Linked DNA regions of Homo sapiens: region 1 is linked to region 2. The links come from fine-mapping of genetic effects on gene expression. A gene starts in region 2. The other region holds a variant in brackets. All regions are shown on one strand. Distances are between the middles of the regions.

What was found.
Region 1: its variant is fine-mapped to the expression of LINC02624 in testis (GTEx, PIP above 0.99).

What each region holds. Positions count from the first base shown.
Region 1 is chr10:106,164,708-106,173,054 of GRCh38, forward strand. All of the region lies in intron 1 of LINC02624 (long intergenic non-protein coding RNA 2624), which reads left to right. Among named protein-coding and RNA genes, the nearest start is that of LINC02624, 29 kb to the left of the region's middle. The variant C/T (reference allele first, on the strand shown) is at 3,839.
Region 2 is chr10:106,134,972-106,143,318 of GRCh38, forward strand. It overlaps LINC02624 (long intergenic non-protein coding RNA 2624), which reads left to right and starts at 5,194. Exons shown (of 5, transcript NR_134330.1): 1 at 5,194-5,355. It overlaps LOC105378469 (a long non-coding RNA gene), which reads right to left and starts at 4,886. Exons shown (of 6, transcript XR_007062381.1): 1 at 4,810-4,886.

The DNA.
Region 1 (8,347 bases), 30 kb after region 2:
AAAAAAGTCAGTAAAAGAGGAATAAAATAGGAGGAAAACACATGAGACATATAAAACACAAAAAGAAAAATGGCAGACCTAAACCCAATTATATCAATAACAACATTACATGCAAATGCATTAAGGGCAGGGTTTTTTAGACTTTATGCATTAAAAAAAATTTCTGACAATATTCTGTTCTCAGGATGGAAAGATACTTTGTATCTTTAGATTCAAATATAGAAACAGGTTGACTGTAAGAGGATGAAGAGAAATATAGCAGGCGCACAGCAATTATAAAAAAACTGACCTATACTAATACCAGGCAAAATAGATTTTGAAACAAAAATATCAATAGAAAGATATTTTATAATGGTAACAGCATCAATAAATCCAGAAGGAATAACAATTATAAATAAATATACACGTAACAACACAGCCCCAAAACTCATAAAGTCTATAAGAGTTGAAGGGAGGAAGGGACAATTCAACAATAGTTAGGTATTTTAATATTCACTTCAATAATGGATAGAACTAGAGAGAATAACAAGGATATAGATGACATGAACAACACTGAACCAACTAAATCTAACAAATATCTATACAGCACTTCACTCAGCAGAAGAATACACATTCTTCTCTGGTACTATGTAACATTTTCAAAATAGACAATATGCTAGACTATAAATCAAGCTTCAGTAAATTTAAACACATTAAAATCATATAAACCATGTTTCCTGACCACAATGATATTAAATTAGAAATCAATAACAAAAATAAATTTGGGAAATTCACAAATATATGGAAATTAAATGACACACTCCTAAATAACCAGAATCAAGGAAGAAATCACAAGGTAAACTAGAAAATTCTGAGATAATGGAAACAAAAATACAACATACAAAAACTTAAACTTATAAGATGAAACTAAAATAGTCCTGACAGAGACATTTATATCTTTAAACATCTATATTGAAAAAAAAGAAGAAATCAAATTGATAATCTATTGCCATAAGAAATTGGGAAAGGAAGAACAAGCTAAACACAAAGCAAGCACAAGACAGGGAATAATTAAAATAAGTGTGTGAACAAATGAAATAAACATAGAGAAAATCAACAAAACAAACACTGGTTATTTTAAAATATTACTTAATTGACAAAAATTTAGAATGATTAAGAAAAATGATAAAAGGTTCATATTTCTAAATCTAAAGGCTGAAATATGTTTGGAACTGCTCTGATTGGCATACAGTTGCAATACTCTTTCCTTATTATTCCTTTATTTCTGTGTGTTTGGTACTGGCATTCTCTTAATCAGTACCAAACACACATAATTTGAAAGAAATTAACAAATAAAGTATATCTGATGCTTTACACAAATAAAAAGTAAATATAAAAATTAAGGAGATTAAATTAATAATTTCAATACTTTTCACAAAGAAGAGCTTAAGATTCAGAGGGCCTTCTTGGTAATTTCTACCAAACATTTGAAGAACAGCTAATACTAGATCTTCACAAACTGTTTTTAAAAAGGAAGAAATTGTCTATGAGGTCAGTATTACCTTGATATTAAAACCAAAGACATCATAAGAAAAGAAATCTACAGGCCAATACTTGTTATGAATATAGACACATAGACACAAAAAATATTGAAAAAATATTGGCAAACCAAATCCAATTAACACATAAAATGATTACACTCTATAACCAAGTGGGCTTTATCCCAGGGTTGTAAAGCTGGTTTAATATCCAAATGTCAATAAATATAAAACACCATATTAATATAATAAAAGGAAAACACTATGCAATCATCTCACTAGATACATAAAGGTATTTGAAAAGAAATACAATCTCATTTCATGGTTGGAAAAAAATAAAACACTCAACAAGATAGGGAAAAAAGAGAACTTGCTCAACCTGATAAAGGAAATCTATCAAAACTCACAGTTAATCTCATATGTGAGGGTGAAAGATTGGATGCTTTCTCCTAAGATCAGGAATAATACAAAAAGTCAACTGAGATTATAACAGATGAGAACAAGGACACAGACATTACTTCAAAATGATATGATTGTCCCTAGAAATAAAAGAAAATTAACTTTAAAACTTTAAAACAATGAAGATATAATAGTGAGAATATAATATATATAAAGCTCTTAGCTTTTTATATTCCAAAACTCTAGGTCATAAAACAAAGTCTAGAACCAAAATCAGGAAACTATAGAAATTCATCATAAAATGTGTAAAAAGTTCAAATAAATGGAGGAATAGATTATTCATCTGGTGGGAAGAAATAAATATATCTAATATTTTCAAAATTCTGCAAATAATATATATGTACCAAACATAATTGAAATCCTGATGACATTTTTTACAAAGTTATCTTACAGTTTACCTTAAAAATTTCACCTATGAACTTTAGAAGATTTGAAAAGGAACACTGAGGGAGTGTTTGCTTTAAATATTAACACTAATATTAACACTATTGTATATCTTTTCCGACATTATGCCTAATAGAAAGATGTATCACTAGATTGTATGTGGCATCTTTATTTATTCAGTGAATAGAGCCAAACATTTCAGAGTACACACTGAGACTGACAAATCACCTTGAATGCACTTATCATCTTCCTTGGGAGAGTAATTGCAAGGGGCTAGTCCTCACTGTCTGGAGAGATGTGTATAAGATGTCCCATGTTTGGGGGATTAAGTGGTTCAGGTAGAGTAGGGAGTGGTTCTTGGCCTGTAGCAGGCTTGGTGCCAAATCCATAAGGTCACTGCAATGTCAAGGCTGGTTTGCACCTAAGAAGTGGCTGTGTAATGGCGAAGACATCTAAAAGTATGGATCTGGTGCCTAAGCAAGATACTGAAATATCTTATTCCTTTAAAGAACCACTCTGAAGGACTCCCATCAGTAACAAAGGTAGCAGGCACAAAAAAAAAAAAAAAAAAAAAAAAGACCTGTACTTTGCCACATCGCTGTAACCTCAGCTTTCAAGACTGTTTTCCTGGCAAGGTCAGTTTATCCCCTTCTAGCTCAAGTCTTCTATGAACAAGATTTCTCTTCATACCTGGAGAGAACATGCATGCTATCTCCACGTTTCTCTCCATGCATCACTTCATGTTTGGGAAGTTCTTGTTTTCTACCAGGGAACCTCAAATGTACCACAGTTTACACTTCCCCATGCTGAGTGGGCTATGCCTTGTTGTCCAACAGAACACCATAGCCAGAACTCTACCATCTTGTTCCCATGAGATAATAGAGATTGTGCCATTCTGTCAAAAAAAAAAAAAAAAAAAAAAAAAAAACACCTCACTAAGTGTCAATTAACCCACTGAAGCTTTCACTTAAAGACGCCTGGCCTTTATGGCTGGGAACCTTAGCTGCTGAGGGAGATGATACCATTTTAGCATCCATAGCTGGGACATGGCCAGAACTTGATTCATCTACTGTACTTCAAACAGGATGTGCCAAGGCGTTTTTTAATCTCAACCACAATTCAAGGCAGAGAAAACCTGAACACTCCCATTCCAAGAACTTGCAGACACTGCAGAACCCCTGACTAAATAACCAAAGATTGAAATCTAGGGGTGGATGATTTTCTGAACTGGAGACTATTACTACCAAGTTAGAGGTCTTTAGAATTTGTACACTTCTACCATGCACATATAAAAATATGTCTTCTGAGTTTTCCATGAAAAGATAGGGAACCAGTGTTTATATGACATACCTTTAATATGTGTATTCTCATTTAATCTCATAATATTTCTATATTGACAACTTAAGTTTTAACTTTCTCTTTTGGTCATATTAGGCTTTCAGGTTTAGGAATGCTATTCTTAAATGCTATTTTGCATC[C/T]GCATCAATTTCAGTCCTAATATACACACTTCTCATTTTAGAAAAAATATCTATTTTCAAAGAAATTAAAGCCAATAACTTTGTCCTGCAATTCATAAATTCTGAGAACTTCAGTGAAATTTCCTTGTTTGCAGATCTCCGTATAAAATGTTTGTCAAATGCTCCAGAAATTCTTTCCTAACTTCCAAAGTCCCAAAGAAATAAAAAGAATATTGGCAACAAAAATTTAAAAAAAGATTTCCCCCAGAGCTTTTGCATCCTCACCTAGTTATTTGGTTCAGCCCTGAGGAGGATGCTCAACATGTCTGGGGGTAGAGGTCTCTGACCACATTCATTGGAAAGGACCTGATTAGACCTTCTACTTTTGAACTGTTTTCAGTGGTAGAAAGTTTCCCTTTGTCTTGTGTTGAAATTAACTTCCTTGTTCTTCTTTGTATGAATGTGTCCTCTGGAGTGCTAATGAATGAACTGATACAGTTTCTTGCCTCTGAGTTGCTGTAGTTGCCTTCTATCCCAATCTTGCATATTACATGTCTTTTGTATAGTGACATTTTGAATCTTTCCCTGCAATATTTCTCCCTTACCATTGGCCCAGATTTGGTCACGCCACTACACCCTATCTGTGGCATCAGATGATAGGATACAACTCATAAAACCAGGTGATGCTTTGGGGGCTTTTGTAAATATACCATCAAGTCGTAGACATTGCCAGTAACCAATTCAAGCTATTTCCCTCTTCACCTTTCCTGCCTGTGTACTTAATCGACTACTACAGCCTGAAATATTCATGACTTCTTACTCATAGAATCATTGATCACGTGTGATTTCCCGCAAAAACAAGCAGGTTTAAAGAAGCAGCTTTGTGCCAAAAGTTTGCAGAGTAAAGACTATTTTTTTCAGTCATTTCACAATGCCCTGAGTTATTGCTGTGGTTTATTAATTCTAACTCTGTTTGTTTGACTTCACCTTTCAGTATAAGTTACTGTGAGTCGGTTTCTGCAAGGTAGCGATATGTTCTCAACTGCTAGTTATTTTCCAGGAATGTCTTTTCTTGTCATGTATTCAATTAGTCATTTTAAAAAACACATTTATCGCTACAAAGCAAGGCTAGAATTAATGCTGATCTGCTTCTTTTTCCTGGATTACTGCATTTTCCAACTGTTTGTGCCTCAGCATATGGCCCCTATGTTCTTTTATTAAGAAAAAAAGAAAAACATTTACATTGGCCATCTTCACTGCATTTTGTTAAATGTCATCTAAAAATTCTATCTGCGCTCTGACCATCACTTGTTCATATTTGAAGTGCCCATCGTATTATTTACTAAGACAATTACCTCAGCATTTGGGATCCTTTTGATCTAAACACCGTCACATATTTTAAAATGTGTTTCATCTTTTTAATTTAGTTGGTTCTGGGACTCAGGTTTTGGAATGCTATTCTTAAATAAATCATAGTTGATGACAAGAAGTCAAAGTTACTTCCTGAATTTGTTTCAGAGCTTTGGAATATGGAAAGCAGAATGCATGCTATATTTAGGGTAGTCTATAACGTTTTCTGTGGATTCAAGTTATTTCTTTCCTCTTGTGAGGAACAAAATTGAACAGTCTCATAGATGGCAGAATGGCCCATGTGTGGTGTGGTCCTATTGCTACAAAAAAAAAAAAAAACTGCTTGAGTCTATACTAACAATATCCTATTCACTTTAACCTTATGTGCAATGACTGAGAGATAACAGCTGTTTCAGTGAATATCAAATGTTGCCCAGAGGAACACATGCATTGCTCTTTCTGTCTATATAGAAATTTATCAGCGCTTTTCTGCCCATGCACATCTGCTGGTGTGCCATGGCTCAAAAGGCAGCAACCATTCTCACTGAGCACCAAGGAGAAGTGAAGTTGGTCTTGGGACTATTTTGCATAGAGTCCTTGGTATGGGTTAGAGACAAACGGATAGACCTCCTGAGATGCTCCTGCCAAGGAAAATCAGATGACAATAACCAGATATTTGTATATCACCTTATAGCTATACTATAGAGAATATTCACAAATATCATTTCCTTTTTGTTTCACTGCAATCATGTGAAGTCAAGTAGTAGACTTTTTTTTTTTTTTTGAGATGGAGTTTCGCTCTTGTCGCCTAGGCTGGAGTGCCATGGTGCTATCTCGGCTCACTGCAACCTCCACCTACCAGGTTCAACTCATTCTCCTGCCTCAGCCTCCCGAGTAGCTGAGATTACAGGCATGCACCACCATGCCTGGCTAATTTTTGTATTTTTAGTAGAGACTGGGTTTCACCATGTTGGCCAGGCTGGTCTTGAACACCTGACCTCAAGTGATGCATCTGCCTTGGCCTGCCAAAGTGCTGGGATTACAGGCGTGAGCCACCACACCCAGCCGACATTTTTTATTACCTGCTCACCACCTTCCCAGGTGTTAACCCTTCCCAGCAGCTTCAACTTCTGCTTGGGAATCTCTATAGGTTCAAAGAAGCTGCTTCCTTCACCCACTCTAGGCTGAAACCCATAACTGAATCTAAGCCAATCCACATGTTTAATTTCCCTGGTCACAGTGATTGGTACAGGCATGGACATGGAACATATGCTGATGCAGTCAGGGTGAATCTCAGGAAATTTTCTAAGCACCCTGGAATGAAGACATCACGTCGTTCACATCACCCATAAATGGCAATGCATCTTACTGTGGAACCTTCTGGAACACATCTTGGGACCATGAGGAATAGCAACCATAGGATAAAGCCGGTATATTAGAAGTCTAAGCAAGGTGTTGGAGAGAAATCAAATCTTTGTAATATTGGCACTTTAGTAAAAGGGCAGGAATAAATATTTTCTCTGGGACTTTGAATTGTGTGAATCAAACAAATTTCTTTATCATAACAATCCATTTAAATTTGGTTTTAATTTACTTAGCTCTGAAAGTGAATTCATATAAAGGGCTGTCTTTGCTGAACTCTCCTACAGACAGAGCCTGAGTCAAAGGTTTGGGAGCACATAGTTAATTTAAGGTAAAATTTAACAAGATGATGAGAGTGGAGAAAGAAATTCAGAGCAGGAGAAAAGCCAGTAAAGGAGGTGTTAGGGTAAGGAATCACAGTAGGAGTGCCACAGTAGGCAGAGCAGGAATGATTAACATTTTTCATTTCAATGTATTTTAGAGAGGTTAAATAGACATCTTCAAACTCAAAGACTATAAGCAGTGGTTATGTCACAACAGTGCTAAAACCTGAGATTTATTGAACATTTACTATAAGAGGATTATGCTAAGTTCTTACCATACAGTATCTCATTTAATCTTTAAAACAATCTCTGGAGATAGTTATTATAATGCTTAATTTATTTAAAAAAATGAAATTCTGGGTAGAGAAAATTGTGTAATTTGCTCAAAGCCACATGTCAAGCATGTCAGAGTTATATCCCAAACTCAGGTCATTCTGACCCCAACACTCCATGCAACACTGCCTCCTACCCAGCCACAAAAGGTAAGCCAGCAAGGGAAGGAGCGGTCACCAACATAAGGAAACACTACCATTATTGAAAGAAACACATCTCTAAATTTCCTAGGTGAATTTATAATCTTATTTAATTTTAAAACAAAGATGTCCTACTTTCTCAAAGATTCAATTTTATCTTTCAGTAAGATGAAAGGGTTCAACCATAGTATCTCTAAGAGCCCTAATAATTGTTAGATTATATAATGGTCTGATACAAGCTTTTCAAATGCAAATATAAGTGAGTTTTAAAACATTGTCCATATGTAAGTGCATCTGAGAATACATTTTATTTAATACATAAAATTGCAATGTGTATTTGGGTATTTTCAAGACGAGGGAAAACAAGGGCTATGTGTGGAACAATCAGATATAAACACAGATTAATACAATTCAGTCTTTCAAGGACATTTATTGAGTATCCCCTTTAGGTCAGGTACTATGCAGCCATTGAAATATCAGTCCCTGGAAGCAAATAAAAACAAAAAGACACCTAAGAGTCGTTGGCAACCAATTTCATGCCACCCAACAAAGTCTCTTTTCTTGAATAGGATGAAGGTAGTGCAGGCCGAGAACAGAAAAGATAAAACAAATAATCTAATTCTAATTTGCACTTCAGTTTTTGCCAAATTATAAAGCTGGTTAGAGACTTATTTAGGATATAAAAATTTGTGTGAAAGCCTCTGAGCGCACGCACACATACACACACACACATATACACACACACACACACACACACACACACAGAGGCATCTATAATATGGCAGCATCTCAATATGGTTCTCTCTAAGGAGGCAGCATTAGCTGGTGGAAAGAACAATGATTTGGGAATTAGGCAGATTTGGAAATAAACCTTCCCTCAACCATTTTCTAGTTGGGGAATATCACTTTACCTTTCTGAGTGTTCCTGTCTTTTGAATGACTTAACTACAAATTTGTCAACTAGGGTTGATGTATACATAGTTCCTGGCCTAGGTACTCAAATAGATTAATAATAATAAGAA
Region 2 (8,347 bases):
GACAAGCCAATAATACAATCTAGTGTCAGATCATAATGAGAACTATTAGGAGCAATAAAATAGGATAAGGAGATTGAAGGAGGTTGGTGTTGAGGGAGAAGATTGAATTATTTTTAATATGGTGGCCATGAAAGGCCTTTCTAAAGAGGCTGCATTTTAGGTCAGAGACATGAATAAAGTGAGGAAGCAAACTGTTCACTCCTCTGTTGATGATAATTTAGCTTAATTTTAATTTTTTGCTACTATAAAATGATAAAGTAATTTTTGTCTCTGGTATACACATTGAAGTGTTTCTTTAGGGTGTATGATGAGGAACAGGATTACAGGGCTGCCCATCTTCAAGTATGTTAGATATTGTGTTGCATATTGACCTCCAAAATGATTGTACATCCATCCAGGAGCATATAAACTTTGAGGGAGGAAAATCTTCCACTCTAACCAGAGGATCTGTTGTCCCAAGAGAGTGGAGAAAACTCCAATTATATATTTTTTCCTCTTTGTCTTCCCACAGGCCAGAAACCTGAAGCTTCAATTACTATGATCTTCGCTACCCCTAATGTTGACACGGTCATGGGTAGTATATGGCAGCATAGAGTAACCAATGCTCCAGCTTTCTGGCCAGAGGACAGAAAAAGAAAGCACTAGGGAACTGGAAAATACCTGGGAGATTTTAGGGAGAGCTCAGGAATACAAACCCATAAATTTGTTTGTAAACCAACGGGCTCTAAATGATCTAAATATACTAACTAAAAAAGTGAGATGGACAACAAAGATTTTTAAAAATGGATTCAGCCAAGTGCTATCTATGATATACTCATGCCAAATGCAATGATAGAGTTAGATTAAAGTTAAAGGGTTGGAAAAACATTTCCCATACAAATGCTAATCAAAAGAAAGCTAGAATAGCTATATTAGTATCAGACAAAGTAGATTTCAGAGCAAAGAAAATTACCAGAATAGAGACATTACATAACAATAAAAGGGTAAATCCACCAAGAAGCCATAACAACCCTACATGTACATGAATATAACAAAAGAGCTTCAGAACATGAAGGAAAAACTGAAAAAACTGAATGGAGAAGTAGAAAAATCCACAATTATATCAGTGGATTTATTTATCAGTCATAGATAAACTAGCGGACAGAATATTGGAAAAGATACAAAGGGACTGAATACCACCAATAATCAATGGCTTCTAATTGATATTTACATAATTATCCACCCCAAGCAGGAAAATATTCATTATTTTCAAGTGTATATCCAACACTCACCAAATAAGGATATCCTGATTCATAAAACAAATCTTAACCACATAAAAGAATTGATATCATACAAAATGTGTTCCCTGAATGCTGTGGTTTTCCCACCCAAACTCATGCTGAAACTTGATTCTCAGTGTGGTGTTGTTGGGAGTTGGGGCCTAGTGGGAGGTGTTTGAGTCTCAGAGGTGATCCTTCATGAGTAGATTTATACCCTCCTATGGGAGTGAAATTTTGCTCTCCCAGGACTGGACTAGTTCCTAGAGAGTGAACTGTTATAAAAGCAAGATGGACTTCCTACACTGTCTCTTCCTCCCTTGCCATGTGATCTCTTTTCCCATGCCAGTTTTTGACCCAACATGTGGCCCTAGGCTCTTCAGCTTCCCAGCCTGTAGAATCCTGTGCTAAATAAATGCATATAGAAAATAAACTACACAGTCTCAGGTATTCTGTTATAGACACACTAAACAGACTAACACACTGACCATAACTGAATTAAACTATACATAAATAATAGAAAGATAGGTAAATTTCCAAACTCTTGAAAATTAAACAATACATTTTCAAATAGTCCATGGGTCAAAGAGAAGATCCTAAGAGAAATTGGAAAATATTTTCAAGAGAAATAAAATGAAAACACAACGTATCAAAATTTGTGAGATGCTGCAGGAGCAGTGTTTAGTGGAAAATGTATAGGATTAAATGTTTATTTTAGAAAGAATAAAAATAATACAGTCATTTTGAAAGAGAGTTTGTCAATTTCTTGTCAAGTTAAACAGACACTCTATTGCCCAGAAATTCCACCCCACCCAAAAGAAACAAAACATGTGCATACAAAGACTGAATGCAAATGTATATAGCAGCTGCATTAATAATAGTCAAACCTGGAAACATTTATATGGTTCATTCAACAACATAAATAAAACAATATAAGCATTCAACTGGTGAATGTACAATCTAATTATGCTATATCCACACAATTAACTAGTACTCAGCAACAAAGGCAGTGAACTATTAATATTTGAAACAATGTGGGTGAATCTCAAAAGCATTATGCTAAATGAAAGAAGCCAGATACAAAAATGAGATCATACATATCCTTGTCTACTTCCTAAAATCAAAGGACACTATTCAATACTTATTTAACCATGAAGAATTATGCTATCTGATGCCTTTGTGTTGAAACTCTTCACCAGACTGAGAAGGTTTTCTTCTGCTTCAAGTATGTTGAGAGTATTTATTATATGTGTTTAATTATATTAAATTTTCTTTTTTCCATTGAGAAAATCATTATTACTAATAGATTTTAAATATTAAATTATCTTACCTGGGATGAACCCCACTTGGTTATATTATATCCCCAAATCCAAATCCCTTGGCTATCTCCAAGTCAAAATCTCTTTAATATTCCTCATTACAGTAATGCAGTGTTTCCAAAATTCATTGCTTTTAACAGAACATTTAATTTTTCTGTTAAGACATTTTTCAGACTTTGTGTTCCACAGAACAACTATTTATAAATCACTGACATAAATAAGTTAATTAAAACCTGAAGTATATATCTAGCAATCATTAATTTCTTTCATCTTTACCCATGTATTCACCAATGACTTCTAACATTTTGAAATGAAAGACACAAGAATTGCAGTTACTCTTATGCTTACAAATGATCACTTTAAAGCACAATTTCAAAGAAGAGGCTACATATTCAAGTGGGAACAACTTGTGAATAAATCTTAAGATATTATTTGCCACATATTGATATAATAGTTGTAGAAAATGTTTTACTCTGTGGATGGTAGACTCACTCACTGGAAAGCTCTTGTAACTATATATTGATTCCTTAATGCAGTCATTTCCTTGAAATATATTCACTTGTCTTGATCTTGCTCTTTACAGTAATAATTTAATCACAGTTTTTCCCTGGTTAACCACTTAGCCGTCCTTTAAAATTTCAAGAAGTTCTGGTTATCACCTGAAATTAAATAAGGTAACCATTGACCTTCGAAGTTATATAAAAAACTTTTTTAAATTGGAGATTTTTTTCTCTGTAGTCAGAGTTACTATTTTCCCAGGGATGCTAAGTAACATTAATCTATGAAGATAGGTGCATTTTCCCTGCACACCTTCTCACACACACACACACACACACACACACACACACACCAATAGATACTTGAATTAGATACTTTTATTTGGAGAGATGGGATTCTTGAACACCTTGGCTCAAGAAATCCATTTGCCTCAACCTCCCAAAGTGCTCAGATTATAGGAGTGAACCACTGTGCCTGGCCAAAAAATATTTTTTAAGCAGTGACTTAGGTATCAAATATAAAATGAAAAGTATTTTATAAACTGGACTAGAACATTTAGTAAACTTCCTTGTTTTTATTTTTTTATTTTTTTTGAGACGGTCTCGTTCTATTACATGGGCTGGAATACAGTGGGAAGATCACAGCTCAGTGCAGCCTTGAACTCCTGGGCTCAAGCAATGTTCTCTCCTCAGCTCCCAAGTAGCTGGGCTTGTAGGCATGTGTCAGCATGCCTGGCTAATTTTCTTTTTTTCTTTTTTCTTTTTTTTTTTTTTTTTTTTTTTTTTAAGAGACGGAGTCTCATTTGTTGCCTAGGCTGATCTCAAACTCCTGGCTTCAAGTGATCTTCCCAGTGTACCCTCCCAAAATGCTGGGATTACAGGCATGTGGCACCATGCCCAACCTAGTAAACTTATTTTTAAGGTAGCTCAATTTAAATGTTGAATTGCGATAGACAGGAGAGACTAGACATTCTGCATTTGTCTGGGACGATTCAAACCTAAAACTTGGACCTTATCTTATGATGTGAAGGAAGGACTAGAACAAAGGTAATAATCACAGAGAGACCCAAACCAAGAAAGAATCTTTGCTTATGATAATGTTAAGGGAGATCACCTAGACAGCTTCTCCAGCCTAGCTGCTGGGGTAGATTCTGGAGAGGAGAGAGGAGGAGAAAGATGCCTGGGTTTTATCTTTGGTGAGTGAAGAATATTGTACTTTACTTACCATACTCTTTTTCTAAAGGGAGAGAAGAAAGGTAAAATACGGTGGGCTTTCTCCAGTTCGAAAGCAAGAAAAAGAAGACCATGGAAGTGACGAATTTTCCCTTCTATTAGGAAGAAAGGGGAAGGCTTGGGAATAGGAGAGAGTAAGATACTAGAAATTCTTCCTCTGAAGCTCAGTACTATTTTAATACTCTCCACATCACCCCCACTTTTTTTTGACATGTAACTTATTTCAAACAAACAAAGTAAAGTAAGCACTGAACTGTAAATCTATGAATGTGGACCTCAGTTTTCTTCATATGTAAAGTGAGAAGTTTGGGCTAGTCTCTGAGGTGTCTTCTATCCTCGTGTACCTGAAATGACCCAAGCTGCAGACACTGTTCGACACACCTTGTCACTACTGGAGTGGATGGCCAGGTGAATATTCTGGCTTGCTCATCCTGCTTGCAACAGCTGGGGCTGAAACAGCTTGTGGCAAATCTCAGGCTACAGAAGGCCTGGTCAAGGACTTACTCGCTGAGCACTGCTTCCTCTCCCTCTTGCTCAGCTTGGTAACAGTATCAAGGGCATAGAAACTGCAAGCTCCCCCAGGATCAGCAAATGCATTTTGTTCTTTAGGCTTCTCCTCCTGGTACTCTGCTGCCCTTTCTTCTCAGAAGCCCTACTGGGGCATTTAGCAGCTCCTTTTAGTCACTTTTGTGTCCAAGGGCTGATGCCCATGCAGAGCCTGCTGGCTATTGACTGACTAAAGTTTGGTGGTGGCCACCTCATGCCTGCAAACCACCAGGTTTGAGTATCTTGGGAGAAAGCTCTGGGATAATACCCTCCTTGATGTCAGAGTGTATGGGGCCTTGTTGAAGAGTTGCCAGGCAGCCAAGAGAAAGTGTTCCACACATAGAACAGGGGGAGACTTGAATCCTAGAGAAAACAAAACAAAACCTAACAAAACAGAAATGAACCCTTGATGAACCTCTTGCTCTGGACTGGTGCCCTGAAAATGAATGAAATTGTTTTAAAGATTACCAAGAAGATATAAAATATCAAATGCGGCATTAATGTGTGAGTATTATATTTTATTTTATTTTTAATTGTGGCATAACACATGTAAAATTTATCATCTTAGCTCTGTTTAAGTGCACAGTTGAGTAGTGTTAAGTGTATTCACATTGTTGTACAATCAATCTCCAGAACTCTTTTCATCTTGAGAAACTGAAACTCTATGCCCATTAAACAACAATTCCTATTCTTCCCTTTCCTGGATTCCTGGCAACCACCCTACTACTTTTGTTTTTAATAAATGTGACTACTCTACGTATCTCATATAAATAAAACAACACAGTATTTGTGTTTTTGTGACAGGTTTATTTCACATAGATAATTTGCTCAAAATCCATCCAGGATGTAGCATATGTCACAATTTCCTTCCTTTATAAGATTAAGTAAAATTTCCTGGTATGTATACGCCACATTTTGTTTGTCCATTCACCTGCTTATAGACAGCTGAGGTGCTTTCACCTTTTTGCTATTGTGAATAATTATGTTATGATAAAGGGTATACAAATATCTCTTTAGGATCCTGCTTTCCATTTTGGGGGGTATACATGCAGGCATGGAATTGCTAGATCATACAGTAATTCTACTTTTAATTTTCTGAGGGATCACCAAAATATAAGTGCTATTGTCTGAATATGTGTGTCTCCACAAAATTCATATGTTGAAATCCTAACCCCGAAGATGATGGTATTAGGAGGTGGAGGCTTTGGGACGTGATTAGGTCACGTGGGTGTAGCCCTCACGAATGAGATTAGTCCCCTTATAATAAAGAACCCAAAGAATTCTCTTGATTTGGTGATTGACATCATTTCCTCCATGGAAGTGAATATAAAAAGAGACACTGTAGAGGACCCTGAGATAATATATGGCTAATGATGAGACCCTTGCAGGTGGTATAGAAGCCTCTGGTTTGCCAGGGCAGATTCATATCTAGGATCAAAAGGATAACCCTAGTTGCTTAACAGGGAATAGAGTTGCATGAGAATGCAACAGTTTATTATAATGTATAGTTATTATAATAATTACAGGAATAGTTTATTATAATTTATAATTATATTAATTTATAATTATAATTTATAACTTATAATTTAAAAATATCTTTAATTGTACACCAAAGTCATTCATATTATATACATAACATATATATAATACATATATATGAATATTTCTGCAAACAAACCTTTCAAATGTAAAACCAGGAAAGAAGCTGATATTCAAACTGTCAGTTCTACTTCCTTGTCCAGCAAAGATGATATCAAGCAGAGTATATTGGAAATAACCTCATAAAAACTCAGGCACTAGTATACCATATACCTAATCCTAATGTCAATAAATAAACCAGCTGCTTGATAGAAGCCCACCAAACAAGTTCCTACATAGCCGACTTTCATTTCCTTACCAGGATGATAAGGAGGAAAAGAGATATCATTAGCTCTAAGATGGATACTTTAGAAGGAACAGTTCTTTCAATGATTCTAGAAATCTTATCTGGCTTATGTATCTTCTGGCATTCACAGAGAACCTGTAACTATTTTGCATACATTTCTTCTGAACCTATGTCTTATTTCTGCCTGCCACACAAATCCAGAGTACCTATGATTTAGATTACTATATTATTTTCCCAGTTGCCGTAATATATTCAAACAGATCAAGAATGTGAGATGTGCTCTAACTAGACTCGGAATAAAATCCTTCTAGTTCTTTATTAATCCCATTGCCTTGAAAAGCAAACAAAACTCTGCCCTGAGGTATAATACAAACCACTTGCTTTGTTATTACTATGGCTATCCTATTTCTTCAGGAGTGCTGTTGTCAGAAATGATTCTTCTGATTTTGGTGGTTGTAGCCTATATCATCATTTAGAGTTCACAGATATGAGAAAGCAATTGAGATGACACTTGTTTTACTAAAGTCAATATTAGTTAACCTGTTGTTTACCTGTAGTTCAGCCCTACATTTATAGACATGGGAATTTCGATCCATGTCTAGCCTGTCTCTGAGCTCTGTAGGCAGAAGCAGAGATGATTTCTAGAAAAATAATCCAGATAATAAAGGATTTGCTTCAACCTTTGTAAAGTATTTTCTCAAGCCTAAATCCCATTAACAATTACATCTACAAATGGATACCACATTTGTTTCTAACCACAATTTCAATGACTTCTACATAATCTTAATGATAATAACATGGGATAGGATGTTTGTGGCTCCTGATGGAAATCATCACAGATTTTGATGATCCCATGCATATTGTTTTACAAGGGCCTGGAGAAAATATTAAGGCCATGAGAACAGCATCTATGAAATGAACGCAGTGGAGCTAGTGCCAAGGCTAGGGTCTAGGAAAAGTTGACTTACCCCAAATTTGCTGATTGTGCCATTCAGTTGACTCTGCCCTTGCTCTTGGCTTGCTCCTTGGTCATACGTTCCTGGACTGAAGGCTTCAACATGCCTTTAGGAAAGAACAGCCAACATTTCTAGTAGGATATCCAGTACTGGGATCCAAGGCAAAATGCAGGCCACTGAAGAAGCTCACAGCTTCTAGTAAAGCTCAATTATGTATTTGTTGATGAGAGAAAGCCTCAGGGTGAAAGAGAGAATGTTGACTTAATTTATTAAATGAGAAAACTAATGGAAATAGATTCAATCATATATATTTCTACTTACTGTAGAAAATATATGATGATAGGACTACAATTTTCAGATGAGATTGAGAAACCAGCTGCCTTCAGCATCTTCTGTGACTGATTTACTCTAAACTAGGAATGAGATCTGCAAACCAACAGGTTCTACTCAACCACGCTTTACTTCCTGCTTTCTTGTGGAACCATGCAAGCTTAGGGAGACCTGTTAGTCTTGGGCTTGTGAACTACAGTTCTCCAACAGCAAATGTGTCATGCATTCCCTGGGCAGAAGGGTCCATGATCACAGACTGTGGTATCAAACTGTCTCCAACAGCAACCAAAGAGTGTGTAGGATGTCTGAGAAGGACACTAAGCAA